Homo sapiens: one gene and its partner. The protein of the gene in region 2 binds, or shares a complex with, the protein of the main gene of each other region. Each region holds a gene or a part of one and is shown on either strand. Other genes may lie near its edges.

Evidence for each region.
Region 1: the proteins of NCOA5 (region 2) and ESR2 are in contact, whole or in part, in a crystal structure (PDB 4ZI1), measured with the Homo sapiens proteins. Residues at the interface, in NP_066018.1 of Homo sapiens: Ser344, Leu345, Ile346, Leu348, Leu349, Ala350, Asp351; in NP_001428.1 of Homo sapiens: Ile310, Lys314, Phe319, Leu324, Gln327, Val328, Leu331, Glu332, Leu490, Glu493, Met494.

Annotation. Positions count from the first base shown.
Region 1 is NC_000014.9:64,283,979-64,291,498, reverse strand, and holds part of ESR2 (estrogen receptor beta), read left to right. Parts: intron 1-7,520.
Region 2 is NC_000020.11:46,086,740-46,094,307, forward strand, and holds the start of NCOA5 (nuclear receptor coactivator 5), read right to left. Parts: upstream 3,224-7,568; 5' UTR 3,078-3,223; intron 1-3,077. UniProt on the Homo sapiens protein: Nuclear receptor coregulator that can have both coactivator and corepressor functions.

The DNA of each region.
Region 1 (7,520 bases), on a different chromosome or scaffold from region 2:
AGCCTGTATTTTAAATATGTAACTTACCTTGCATACCCAGTTACAGTGGTAGTAACTAGGATATGCAGAGTGGCAAGTTTATGAGGAGCTAGCAAACTGGATAGTTGGCCTTCCTAGCTGGAATTATGACAGGTCTTGAAAATGAAGGGCTTTTAGTGGAGAATCTTTGTGTGGGTGTACTTGAGAGAGGGCAGGAGAGTTAGGGTGACCTAGAAAGATAGATTGCTGGACTTGTATATGTTTCCTCAAAGCCAGACTGCAGCATTTTGTTAGTAAATTGTTGTGTGTTCTACTGTCAAACCCAGGCCTGGAAGGGGAGTTGAGTGCATTCAGCCTAACTTCTGGATTGGCTGTGTCATCTTGAATCCCTTCACTCGGAATTCTCTCTGACCCTGTCCCAAATGAATATTTGAATTTGGTCCAGTTCCTACAGAGCATGGTCTGTGGCTGTTGTTGGTGTTAGGGAAGAGCAGAAACTTGCTGTTGAGAGAGAAGACACTTGAGAAGACTGATGAACTCTCTCCCACCCCTGCCTTCGAGGCTTGGTCCTCCTACCCTATTCAAACCCTTGAAACTCTTTCCTATCCAACTAAATAAGCGCCAATTGGTTACTAGGAGAATTAGCTTTTCCTCATTTTAGAAGGAAACAGGGTTTCCTTATGTACATGTTCTTAAGAATTACATGCAAATCAGTTATTAATGATGAGTTCTCTGGTGATTTTGGAGTGTTTTATCTTCCTAATATTAAATTAATTGAGGGCCTTAATATTTTGTTTTGAAAGAATATATTTAAAAAGGCTGGGTGTGGTGGCTCACGCCTGTAATCTCAGCACTTTGGGAGGCCTAGGTGGCTGGATCACTTGAGGGCAGGAGTTCAAGACCAGCCTGGCCAAATAATGAAACCTTGTCTCTGTTAAGAATACAAAAAATTAGCTGGCCATGGTGGCTCAAGCCTGTAGTCCCAGCTACTCAGGAGGCTGAGGCATGAGAATTGCTTGAACCTGGGAGGCCGAGTTTACAGTGAGCCGCGATCATGCCACTGCATTCCAGCCTGGGCAACAAAGCAAAACTCTATCTCTAAATAAATAAATAAATAAATAAATAAGAATACATTTAAAGATAATAATTGGCCAGGTGTGGTGGTTCATGCCTGTGATCACAGCACTTTGGGAGGCCGAGGTGGGAGGATTGCTTGAGGCAAGGAGTTCAAGATCAATCTGGGCAACACAGTGAGACCCTATCTCTACAAAAATTTAAAAATCAGCTGGGCATGATGGTGCATGCCTTTAGTCCCAGCTACTTGGGGGGCTGAGTTTGGAGGATCCCTTGAGCCCAGGAGATCAAGGCTGCAGTAGGCCATGATCTTGCCACTACACTCTAGCCTGAGTTACAGAGCTAGAGTATAACCCCCACCCCCCAAAAAAGCTAATAATTGTCAAACAGCTACTTATGCACATCAAGGATGCTTGTTGCTTAAGAAATCTTTTTAAATCTTTTCCATGAAATTCCTTCTAGTTGCTGCTTTGTGAGCGTGAATTTTTTACTTCTGCAGGACACACAAATGTGGAGCATTTGAACTGAATGCTTGGGAAAGTGTGATGGGCAGGTGGAAGAAGAATAGGGATGAGGACTTATCCTCTATTCTTATCCTCCTAGACTTATCCTCCTAGTCTGCAAGCTTGAGAATATGGCATCAGGAATATGTGGCATTTTGTCCACACACACAGTGTTGGCAGGCTACCAGCAGCCCAGCTATCTGGACTAGGGGTGATGGATTTCTGTGGACAGAAGTCAAAAAGTAAAATTAGGAGGCAAAAATCTTCAGGGTGGCCATAAAGACATTGTAACTTGTCTGGAAATTCCAACCAACACTAAATGTGTATCCAGTGATATACCAATAGACTGGCTTCATCTTCTTGGATGTGTAATAATACCTTACAGAATGCTTTCTTTTTTTTTTTCTTTTTCTTTTTCTTTATTTTTTTTGAAATGAAGTTTTGCTCTTGTTGCCCAGGCTGGAGTGTAATGGCACAATCTCAGCTCACTGCAACCTCCACCTCCCAGGTTCAAGCGATTGTCCTGCCTCATCCTCCCGAGTAGCTGGGATTACAGGCATGTGCCACCATGCCCGGCTAATTTTGTATTTTTAGTAGAGACGGGGTTTCTCCATGTTGGTTAGGCTGGTCTCAAACTCCCGACCTCAGGTGATCTGCCCACCTTGGCCTCCCAAAGTGCTGGGGTTACAGGCGTGAGCCACTGCGCCCGGCCTCAGAATCCTTTCACAGACATCATCTCATTTCACCCTCAGAGCACCGTGAAAAGGTACAGCACCAAATAGGTACCTGATTCTACTGAAGAAGATGTGGCAGCTCAGGGAGTTTGTGGATTTGTCTAAGATTGCCTGGCTTTCAGGCAGAGCTGGGGCTAGAATGAATGTTCTGCTCTATCCATTGATAGAATATACATAAGAACAGGCTTGATGGTGGCTGACCTTTTTTTTTTTTTTTTTTTTGAGACAGAGTTTTGCTCTTGTCACCTAGGTTGGAGTGCAGTGGCGTGATCTCGGCTCACCGCAACCTCCACCTCCTGGGTTCAAGCGATTCTCCTGCCTCAGCCTTCTGAGTAGCTGGGTTTACAGGCAAGCGCTGCCACACCCGGCTAATTTTGTATTTTTAGTAGAGACTGGGTTTCTCCATGTTGGCCAGGCTGGTCCCGAACTCCTGATTTCAGGTGATCTGCCCACCTTGGCCTCTCAAAGTGCTGGGATTACAGGCATGAGCCACCCGCGCCCGGGTGACTGATTTCTTATTAACTAGATTTACAGGTGCTTTGATAAAAACCAGTCTAGTCTTGGCTGGCACGGTGGCTCATGCCTGTAATCCCAGCACTTTGGGAGCCCAAGGCGGGCGGGTCACGAGGTCAAGAGATCAAGACCATCCTGGCTAACATGGTGAAACCCCGTCTCTACTAAAAAATAGAAAAAATTAGCTGGGCATGGTGGCGGGCACCTGTAGTCCCAGCTACTTGAGAGGCTGAGGCAGGAGAATGGCTGAACCCGGGAGGTGGAGCTTGCAGTGAGCCAAGATTGCACCACTGCACTCCAGCCTGGGCAACAGAGCAAGACTCCATCTCAAAAAAAAAAAAAAAAAAGTGTAGTCTTTTTGGAGTGTTTTTCTGCCATTTCTAGGGCCAAACTTTTTCTTGTCCATGAATCATTGTCAAAATTGGGAATTTTAAATACTACTTTTTTCTTTTAATTCAAAAGCCATAGTATGTTTCCCAGCCAGTACATTAGAACACCATGCACGATCCCATGTGTACAAAAAGCTTTCTGGCTGAATTCAGATGTGACCTGAGAGGGCCAAATACAGGGGTGTGTGCTGGGAGAGAGAGAGAGGTCTCTGGACAGAAAACAAAGCCTGTTCACCACCCAGGATATGGACCAACTATTTTAGGTTATGGTGACTAAAGAAAATTGACATGCAAATAAATGAATAATTCTTAGAATCAGGATGTCTGGGTACTGGTTCTTTGGTTGGCCAGGTGAAATTCCATGCCAGGCCCAACAATTAAACTCTTTAGAGACAATTTTTTCCTGTTGTACCAGAACATTGTACTGAGGCCATGTTTGAACATTCAATCGATGTGTTGGGAAAACTCTGCCCTACAATGTTAAAGAAATTAAATCTTTTGGGGAGTCTTTCCTTTGACCAGTTTATATCTCTGTTTTAGAGGAGGGCTTCTCAACCAGAATGGGTTTGTTGACTTATTTTTACAGACCTCTGGTAGAAAGGAGGTCTTTTTTTGCTACCTGTTCTCCTGTCTCAGAGAACTATTACAATGGTGTAAGTTCATCATTTCTTCCCCTTATTATGGCTCTGCTTAGGAAGAAAAACTCTTTGCATTGGCTACCAAGTACCTAACTATTCAAGATGCCACTGACAAAGAGTTAATCTGTGAATCATGTGAATCTGATATATCTGAAATATATCCAAACAAAAAGCACCTAGCCTTTTAATGACTCTCCAGAAGTCAGTTCTCTAACTTTAATTATCATCCTTCTGGGGATATGTGGAAATTCTACAGAAGTTGATTGGTGATATGTTGAGATGTGAGATCTGTATTTTCTAAGCAAAGTTGCCATGCACCTGATTGATTGGCTAGGTGTATCCTGGCATTTGTCATTTGTTGGTGGGGTCTGATAGTTGGTTTCACCACTGCTGGGTACCCAGAGTCATCACATCCATAGAGACAGAATGTAGGCTGGTGGTTGCCAGGGGCTGGGGGAAGGGAGGAGTGGGGAATTTGTTTAACAGAGAGTTTTAGTTTTGCAAGATGAAATGAGTTCTAGAGATTGGTTGCACAATAATGTGAATATCCTTAACACTACTGAACTTTATACTTAGAAATGGCTAAGATGGTAAGTTTTATGTTACATGTATTTTAACACAATTAAAAAAGAAAAAAAAAAAAACAACTTCAGGCCAGGCACGGTGACTCACACCTGTAATCCCAGCACTTTGGGAGGCTAAGGCGGGCAGATCACTTGAGGTCAGGAGTTCAAGACCAGCCTGGCCAACATGGTGAAACCCCATCTCTACTAAAAATACAAAAATTAGCCTGGCCTAATTGTGCATGCTTATAATCCCAGCTAATTGTGAGGCTGAGGCAGGGGAATCGCCTCAAACCCTGGAGGTGGAGGTTGCAATGAGCCGAGATCACACCACTGCACTCTCCAGCCTGGGTGACAGAGTGAGATTTCATTTCAAAACAAAAAACCACTTTAGAAACTGCTAGTTTTGGCAATAGTTATCACTATATGTTTTATCCTGCATATTTTCTGTTAAGAATAAGGAATTGTTTATGTTGATCAGGAATCTAAGTAATTAAAATACAAAATTCTGGCTGGTGGCTCTCGCTTGTAATCCCAGCACTTTGGGAGGCCAAGGCGGGTGGATCATTTGAGGTCGGAAGTTCAAGACCAGGCTGGTCAACATGGTGAAACCCCATCTCTACTAAAAGTACAAAAAATTAGCTGGGCATGGTGGTAGGCACCTGTAATCCCAGCTACTAGGGAGGCTGAGGCAGGAGAAGCACTTGAAGTCAAGAGGCGGAGGTTGCAGTGAGCCAAGATTGTACCACTGCACTCCAGCCTGGGTGACACAGCGAAACTCCATGTAAAAAAAAAATGAAATATAAAATTCCATACTCATTATTAATTACATATAGTATTAAAATAAAACCCAAACACCAAACCTTCCTTGATCCTATATCCTTCTCCAGCTACCATTCTCTCTCCTCTCCTTGGTCCAAATTTTTGATTTACAATGTTGGTTGGAAGTGGTACCACTTTGGTGTTAGTTCCTTATCATTTTACCTGGTCTGTCCTGCCTCTTCCTGGTACATTAGCTCCCTGAAGGCAGGGTGTATGTCCCAGAACTCCTTGAAGTCCCTTTTCTCAGCATACTACCATGCCTACTGCAGCACCCCCCATCTTTAATGTCCTTGACTTGGTGAAATATTACATTTTGAACACATTTCCTCACTTCCTTATGACAAATATTGATTGAGTTTCAGTGCAAGGTGAGTAAGAAATGGTACTTGCTTTCAAGGAGCTAAAAATCTGAATTTCCTTTTTTTTTTCTTTTTCTTTTTCTTTTTTTTTTTTTTTTGAGACAGAGTCTCACTCTGTCACCTGGGCTGGAGTGCAGTGGCACGATCTCAGCTTAATGCAGCCTCCGCCTCCCAGATTCAGTGATTCTCATGTCTTAGCCTCTCGAGTAGCTGGGACTACAGGCATGCACCACCACGCCTGGCTAACTTTTGTATTTTTAGTGAAGATGGTGTTTCACCATCTTGGCCAGGCTGGCCTCAAACTCTTGACCTCATGTGATCCACCCACCTCGGCCTCCCAAAGTGCTGAGATTACAGGCATTGACTTTACTTCTTACTCTCCTATGCACCTCTATCATTTTGAAGAAGGGTTCAAGGTAGTTCTGATAAGCAGGATTAGGTTTGTATGTAAGTGATTAAAGGGGTGCTATGAGCAAAAAAAGTGTGAAGGTATAACAAGCCAACCACCTCACAATGCAGTTTGCATGTTTCTTAATGGACATAGCAGGTTTTCTGTAAGAAAACAGCAGGAGATTCGTGTGGAATGATGGGTTGAGGCAACATAGTGGCATCCCTTGAATGCTCGAAGAATGTGACTTAGAGTTTGGTGGGAAGCAGAGAGCTGGGTTTTAAGAACATGAATCTGACAACTCTATGGATCTGGAGGAGAAGCTAACTGGGGACGAGGAGCAGTAAGAAGCCTGTTACAGATGCACTGATAAGAAGTAATGAGAGCTGGCCGGGCACAGTGGCTCACGCCTGTAATCCCAGCACTTTGGGAGGCCGAGGCGGGCAAATCACAAGGTCAGGATTTCAAGACGAGCCTGGCCAACATGGTGAAACGCCGTCTCTACTAAAAATACAAAAAGTTAGCTGGGCGTGGTGGCGGGCGCCTATAATCCCAGCTACTCGGGATGCTGAGGCAGAAGAATCGCTTGAACCTGGAAGGTGGAGGTTGCAGTGAGCCGAGATTGCGCCACTGCACTCCAGCCTGGGTGACAGTGCGAGACTCCGTCTCAAAAAAAAAAAAAAAAAGTAATGCGATAATGAGAGCTTACTTCAAGATGGCAGCAAAAGACAGTGGAAAAAAGGCATTGGGAAAAAAAGCCAATGTGCCTTGATGAGTAAAGTTAACTGAGTCAAGGGGAGAAGTCAAAGGTAACTATGATGGGCTTTTTCTATTAACACAAATAGGAAATGAGTGGTTTTGGGAAAGAAAGTGATGAATTACCCCTCAGATATTGTATTAATTGTCTATTACTGTGGCCGGGCATGGTAGCTCATGCCTGTAATCCCAGCACTTTGGGAGGCCGAAACAGGCAGATCACTTGAGGTCAGGAGTTCGAGACCAGCCTGGCCAACACGGTGAAACCCTGTCTCTACTAAAAATACAAAAATTAGTGTGGTGGTGTATGCCTGTAATCCCAGCTACTCAGGAGGCTGAGACATGATAATTGCTTGAACCTGGGAGGCAGAGATTGCAGTGAGCTGATATGGCGCCATTGCACTCCAGCCTAGGCAACAAGAGTGAAACTCCATCTCAAAAAAAAAGATTTGCCTGTAATCAGCCAGCACCCCCAGCCTTGTGCTCACTTTACATACAAAAATTCTGTTTTTTAGAGCATAAATTGAAGGGCACATTCAAAACTGATACGTAGGCCAGGCATGGTGACTTATGCCTGTAATCCCAGCACTTTGGGAGACCGAGGCAGGTGGATCACTCGAGATCAGGAGTTTGAGACCAGCCTGGCCAACGTGGTGAAACCCCATCCCTACTAAAAAATACAACAAATTAGCCAGTCACAGTGGTGCGCACCCATAGTCTCAGCTACTCGTGAGGCTGAGGCAGGAGAATCACTAGAACCTGGGAGGCAGGAGGTTGCAGTGAGCCGAGATCATGCCACTGC
Region 2 (7,568 bases):
ATTAATAAACCACAAGGTACAGAGAGGAAATACAGCGTAGTAGAAAGAGTAGTCAGTTCTGAGGAACACTATTACTTCAAAATATTCATGAGAGGATAGCAGGAGAAAGGCATCATGATAACTTCCTCTCTCAGATATTGACATTGCACATATTTAGCACATAAATGCCTCTGAGAAGTTTTGGAGTAAGGACACCACTATATCTCAACATTTCCCAATTTTGCTTGACCCTGAAATCAATTATCTCCAATGATGTCTTGAATATGTTCTACTAATTATGTGATCTGGGGCAAGAAATCTAACCTCTTTGAGTCATCATTTCCCTATAAATAAAAAAGATCAAACTAGTTTATCAGTCTCATAAGATGACGGGCAGGAGCAATGATTTAGTATTTACCATATGCACTACTGGCTGTATGTTATTATCATTACTACACTAAGAGTAACAGTGACTTCAGGAATAGACGTTTCATTCTTCACGTGGGGAGTCAAAAACAAGAGAACAACCTAAACTGAAGGGAAGAAAAAGTTTAATATATTTCTTGTGAAGATTTTCCATTCTTAAAAGCACAACTAAATTTTATTAATCCTCACAGTAGTAAAACATTACACAAAGGCACTGCCATCTGCAGGTCATAAACATGGACTGCTTGCAATGATTATTTAAAATGAAGTTTCAAACCAATAAATCTTTTCTCATCAGACTACGAAAGTCTTTCCAAAAATTGTTTATTCTGGTTGGACGCGGTGGCTCATGCCTGTAATCCCAGCACTTTCGGAGGCAGAGGCGGGCAGATCACCTGAGGTTGGGAGTTCGAGACTAGCCTGACCAACATGGAGAAACCCCGTCTCCACTAAAAATATACAAAATTAGCCGGGCGTGGTGGCGCACGCCTGTAATCCCAGCTACTTAGGAGACTGAGGCAGGAGAATTGCTTGAACCCGGGGGCCAAGATCGCACCACTGCACTCCAGCCTGGGCAACAAGAGTGAAGCTCTGTCTCAGAAAAAACAAAAACAAAACCAAAACAAACAAGTTGTTTTTTCTTAGCTCTCAAGCACTGGTAGATGAGTTTCCATTTGCTGAAGTTCTGAAACGGACGCCGGGCTTAAATCAAATTCTCAGAAATGTGAAGAAAATGACCTTAGCCTTACGTAAATTCTACATTGTGATCATACCAAGGTAACCCCAAAGAAACATGTTTTTAACAGGGGGAGAGATACATACACACACACACATATATATACATATACATATATATATATTTTTTTACACAGCCTTTGAGGGGAGGGGAAGAAAACTTGAATAAGCCTGAACTGACTTATGGGACTTTCCTGTCAATGATTTAAATTAAATCTGCTCTTACATTCACATAAACAGATCTTATGAACACACTATTAACTTACAAGTAAGTTAATCTGTCAATGCCTCCTTTAAACTTGTGGTGTTCACAGGTATGCAACATTGAGCAAACTGAATCTAGAAAAACTCCTTCCAATGAGCCTTGCAATATGGATTCGCTGGGACATTCTACAAGGAAAATCAGTGTTTCTAAGTTTTAGGTTAAGAGAAGTGTCAGAGGTTTCAAAGGCAATCTGAAGAGTGACAGATGAGCTCAAAGAAAGGCAAAGAAATCACAATAAAGGAAGAAATGGATGTTAACAAATAGCCAAGTGATTTCTAATATCCACAATGCAAAGCATGGGCTTTACTGGTTGCAAAAAGTAGACACAAAGTTAGTTTTCACACCCAGACTGACTCATAGAGAAAACATTAAATTAAGAGTTGTCAAAACTCACAAAAGCTTCCCCAGCATTTGTAGAAACATCTTTTTATGAGCCAACAGGGGGCTACGACATCACAACGCTGTAAGAAAATTCAGGCACACCGGGTGCACCTGAGTGAACACAGTTCTTGCAGTTCCCTGGGACTAACACTTTTAAGTCAACAAAGAGAACAGTTTACAAGAAAGCTGTTACATTATCCCTGAAGAGCCCAGGGCATTCATAGAATCTGCTTTGCCTCAGGAAAAATTCTGTGCACAGAGTGCAAGCCAGAAGAACCACAATTAATCAGCTACTCCTCGGGCAGCGTTTCCCAAAGTGTGGAACGCAGAATAATTTCAGGAGGAACAAGGACGCACTGTTTATTTCAACAGACAGATATTTATTTTTTTTATAAGCATTAGAAAAATAACTGGCTTTCCAGTACCCGGTTTGTGATTGAAGTTGCCGCCTTAAATATATTTAAGGAGAAAAAAAGAGTCAGTTTGAATTTTTTAAAAAATGTAACATTTGGTAAATAGCAGTACAGATGGTCCACGGACATAAAGGTGCAACGCGAGACTGAAACGTGTGCAACGCCGTCCTAAGAGAAGCCCCTCGCCCGCTGGCGGGGAGCGGACAGTGCCCCGCGCCGGGAGCTTGGAAAGCCGGCCGGATCGGACGCTGGCGCTGAGCTACGTGGTAAACCCGGGAACAGTTCCTCTCCCCGTTCTCTGGGCCCGAGGTCCGCGCCTACAAAACGCGTGGGGTGTCACACCACAAGGAGACACCCCGAGAATGCGGTCAGGGGCCGCGAGACGGTGGCGGGGGACAGCGCTCAGTACACCGCTCGGCGCTGCACGCCTGGAGAACGCCCGGTGCCACGGGACGCCTTGGGCCCGGTTCGAATCCCGACTGCGCCACTGACTCGCTGAGGACCCGCGGGCGAGCGACTCCACCGTTTCGACAGGGGGTGCGGGATGTGCGGCTCAACCAGAGAAGCCTTGAGGACTCCTAGTGACCGACCGTTCGTGCACAGACAGGCGGCTGCGATGCGACGCCGCCGACCTGCGTCCACCACAGAGAACCGTAGGCCGCCTCGGCCGGCCGGGCCTGGGCCTGACGGGAGCCGGAGGCGGCCGCGCCCCGCACCGGGCATGCGCAGCACCGCGCGCACCCGGAGAGGAGCCGAGACCGTGGCCGCGCGTCGAGTGGGCCTTCCCGCCTCAGCCTCCCCGTCCGGCCAGGCCCCCCACAACGGCCTGCCCGTCAGCCCCACGCCTCGGCTGACGGCCAGCGCTTCCCGGCACTCACCGCTACCAGCGCGGCGGGCTCCCGGCCGCTCCTTCGCCTCAGGCCCGCCGCTGCCGCCTCCGCGTCGGCCCACCTGCCCGCCGTAGGACAAAGGCGCCACCAACCGACCGGCGCGGGCACGAGGCAATGGCGGCCGGGCGGAGAGTGGAGATGGGGGCAGAGGGCGCGCACGTAGCGGCAGGCGCGGCACTGTCGCAAGACCGCGCGTGTTTACGGCAGGGCTGAGTTGGGGCGTCGATCTCCTTGGCAATGAGGGCCCGGGAAGTGGCTCTCGGGCGGGAGTTGAGAACGCAGGGAGTTGCCTAGCAACAGCGTCCTAGGCTGAGGATGGGCCCCACGGTGGTCGCCTCAGCCCCCGCCCCAGAGTACTTTTTTTCTGTTTTCAGAGCACATTCCCTCCTCCCTAACTGTGGGAACAGAACATTCAAATCCCCAAATACCTTGATTTAGTCTTGCATAAAACTGAAAGCAAAAACCCCAAATCCCTATACACGTGTGTATTGGAGAATATATATAGTCCTGTAACCTCCGGACCACAAGGAACAAAGAGAGCAGAAAGGTGGAGAAAATGTTGTATTTAAATTTACATTTAAATAGGCTCTGTACTCTATTAGTTTCACTGACAAGCGGCAAAAGGTTTCTGGAGATATAGTCACAGGTTCTTCTTGAGTTATTTATTCTTGGAATATTCGTTCAACGTCAAAAATTTCCCGGAATGTAACTGTTGACCGTGAAGCCTGTAAAATGTTGTACTGTTCATTTCATGTATAGAATACATTTGTCACAGGGAATGGGATTTGCTCACACAATAGTAAATGCACTCTATTAATCACAGCCATAGCTATATTAATCAGGTACTCTTTTATTAGTGTTGGAAACGCCTCAGACTCCATGGGGTCTAGTTCTTCTCCTTGCGAATATTGCCTACTAAGAAAAAATGGTGCCTGCGGAATTTAAACACTACAAGAAGCCAGATTTCTTTGACATCTACCCCTATGCTCACTCCACTCATTTATTCACTGAATGTTTATTACATACCTACTATGTAGCCCTATACTTATTATATGCCTGCTTGTTAGGCGCTGTTATGAGCAAATGCAGACCCTTTTCTGCTATCTTTGAGATTACAGTCTGGTGAAAGCATTAGACGAATAATCACACTTGAGTGTGTAATTGCAAACTGAGATAAACGCTGTGATGGAAAGAAATAGGGATTCTCAATGGTTGTAACTAGAACTTTAGTTTACTCACAGGCAAAGTGGGTTATTCCAATTCCCACTTTATAAGACTGTATGAAATTAGAAATGAAGACATAAAGTCTGTCAAATAATGGATACCCAACAAATGTTCATTCTTATTCCTTTCCCTCCAATATAGATCCTAATACTATGAAAATTTAAGAAGAATCATATTAATTAGATGATTAAGATAACCAAGCTTAGGGAAAAATGTTGGTTTAGAGGTGAGTGGCAGTACCTCAAGTGGGTAGTGGACTTTAGCCAAAAGATGTATTCAGTGACTTGTGTATTAAGTGTTTAATGAGTGTTTTTTATGCACTTGATTTTGTGGAGAGTAGAGAGTAAGGTAGACAAAATCCTTGTGCTTAGGGAGCTCATGGCCTATTAGGGAATATGAGCAATAAACAAACGATAATATATAGTGTTTGATGAGTATTTTTGATAGAGGAGCAAGTTAATTTTATGAAGAAAGATTCTTGTAGGGAGGCAGGTGCTCAGGACTTGGTGACTTCTTATTTAGATGTTTGCTTTACATAATAGGTAACATCTATTGTGTGCCTACCATGTGCTGAATCCTTTACACATATCATCTCATTTAATCCTCACAACCCTATTGAGAGGTGACAGCGTGCTGGCAGCCCTCACAGCCCTTGCTCACTCTCGGTGCCTCCTCGGCCTCGGCGCCCATTCTGGCCGCGCTTGAAGAGCCCTTCAGCCCGCCGCTGCACCATGGAAGTCCTTCTCTGGGCTGGCCGAGGCCGGAGCCGGCTCCCTCCGCTTTCGGGGAGGTGTGGAGGGAGAGGCACGGGCGGGAACCGGGGCTGCGCGCGGCGCTTGCGGGCCAGCTAGAGTTCCAGGTGGGCGTGGGCCTGGCGGGCCCCACACTCGGAGCGGCCGGCCCGCCCTGCTGGCCCCAGGCGTGAGAGACTTAGCACCCAGGCCAGCAGCTGTGGAGGGTGCGCCGGATCCCCCAGCAGTGCTGGCCCACCGGCGCTGCACTCGATTTCTCACCGGGCCTTAGCTGCCTCCCCGTGGGGCAGGGCTCGGGACCTGCAGCCAGCCATGCCCGAGTCTCTCCGCCCCACCAACCCTCCTCCCTCGGGCTCCTGCGCGGCCTGAGCCTTCCTGACGAGCGCAGCCCCCTGCTCCAAGGTGCCTGGTCCCATCGACCGCCCAAGGGCTGAGGAGTGCCGGTGCACGGTGCGGGACTGGCGGGCAGCTCCACCTGCGGCCCAGTGGAAGATCCACTGAGTGAGGCCAGCTGGGCTCCTGAGTCTAGTGGGGACTTGGAGAACCTTCGTGTCTAGCTAAGGGATTGTGGGTGCACCAATCAGCACTCTGTGTCTAGCTCAAGGTTTGTGAACACACCAATCAGCACCCTGTGTCTAGCTCAGGGTTTGTGGATGCACCAATCCACACTCTGTATCTAGTGGGGACTTGGAGAATCTTTATGTCTAGCTAAGGGATTGTGAATGCACCAATTGGCACTCTGTATCTAGCTCAAGGTTTGTAAATGCACCAATCAGCACTCTGTCTAGCTCAGGGTTTGTAAATACACCAATGGACACTCTGTATCCAGCTAATCTAGTGGGGACGTGGAGAACTTTTGTGTCCAGCTCAGGGATTGTAAACGCCCCAATCAGCACCCTGTCAAAACGGACCAATCAGCTGTCTGTAAAACAGACCAATCGGCTCTCTGTAAAATGGACCAATCAGCAGGATGTGGGTGGGGCCAGATAAGCGAATAAAAGCAGGCTGCCTGAACCAGCAGTGGCATCCCGCTCGGGTTGCCTTCCACACTGTGGGAGTTGTGTTGTTCTGCTCTTTGCTATCAATCTTGCTACTGCTTTTTGGGTCCACACTGCTTTTATGAGCTGCAACACTCACTGGGAAGGTCTGCAGGTTCACTCCTGAAGTCATTGAAACCACGAACCCACTGGGAGAAACAAATAACTCCAGACGTGCCACCTTAAGAGCTGTAACACTCACCTGGAAGGCCTGTAGCTTCACTCCTGAGCCAGCGAGCCCACGAACCCCCCAGAAGGAAAAAACTCCGAACACATGCGAACATCAGAAGGAACAAACTCCGGACACGACGTCTTTAAGAACTGTAACACTCACCATGAGGGTCTGCGGCTTCATTCTTGAAGTCAGTGAGACCAAGAACCCACCAATTCTGGACACACTGTAATATGTGTACTATATTCCTATTTTACAAATGAGACAATTGAGGCCAGTTAATTTGCTTGTCCCACAGAGATTATGTGGCATGGCCAGACTCACTGAACCTGTGCGGCCTGATGCCCAAAATGCTATTGTAACCACGAGTGATACTGTCTTCTGGGATAAGAGGTTCCCTTCCAAATCAGGGGGTACCTGATTGGTGTAAAAGCCTGTAACCCTTCAGAGGTGAGCACCAAAGTTTGACCAGGAGATAAATTGAAAATCTGCTACAGTGGAGGCCATCTGATTTCTGTCAGATAGATCTTTAAGCTCACTGGCTGTTAAAATTTGGTGTACAGTGGGTTACCCCTTACTGTAAGGGAAGAAAGGTATAGTTTAAAGTGTGGCCAGTACTAAAGAACGATGTGTGTTTCCTAGAACATATGAGTAGGCCTTGTGGTTTACAGGACAGCCAAGACAGGGCAATGAGCAATTCCACTCAAACAGCAAACTGGAGGGGGCAGCATTTGGTGCTCAGCAAATACCTGTTGAATGAAGAAAAAAAAAGAAGAAAGAGTAAATTCAATACCATAGTCAATAGTGGAGGAATTTTTTTGAGATATCAATTTGGTTTTATTTTAATCTGGTATTTTTCTTAGTATTTCAGACTGCTTTATAGGATGAAGCCAGATACGTTTTGGGTAATGAAGTGGTGATTAAAAAGTGTCTAAGCAATGGGCTCAGGAATATCCCAGGAGAGAGAACCAGAGGGTCTATGATAAAGAAAACATGTAGTTTTTTTTTTTTTTTTTTTTAAGGACAAGATTACTGCAGAGAATCAGAAAGTAGGATCAGAAGGCAATCTTGAGTAAAACCCTTCCATTTTGACAAATGCAGGGCATAATATAGCCTCAAAATTTTGATTTTTAAAAATTAATTTTTTTAGAGACAGTCTCACTCTGTCAAGGCGATCAAGCCTTGACCTTCTGGGCTTAAGTGATCCTCCCACCTCTGCCTCCTGAGTAGCTGGGACTACAGGCATGTGCTACCATGCCGGGCTTTTTTGGGTAATTTTTGTAGAGACAGGGTT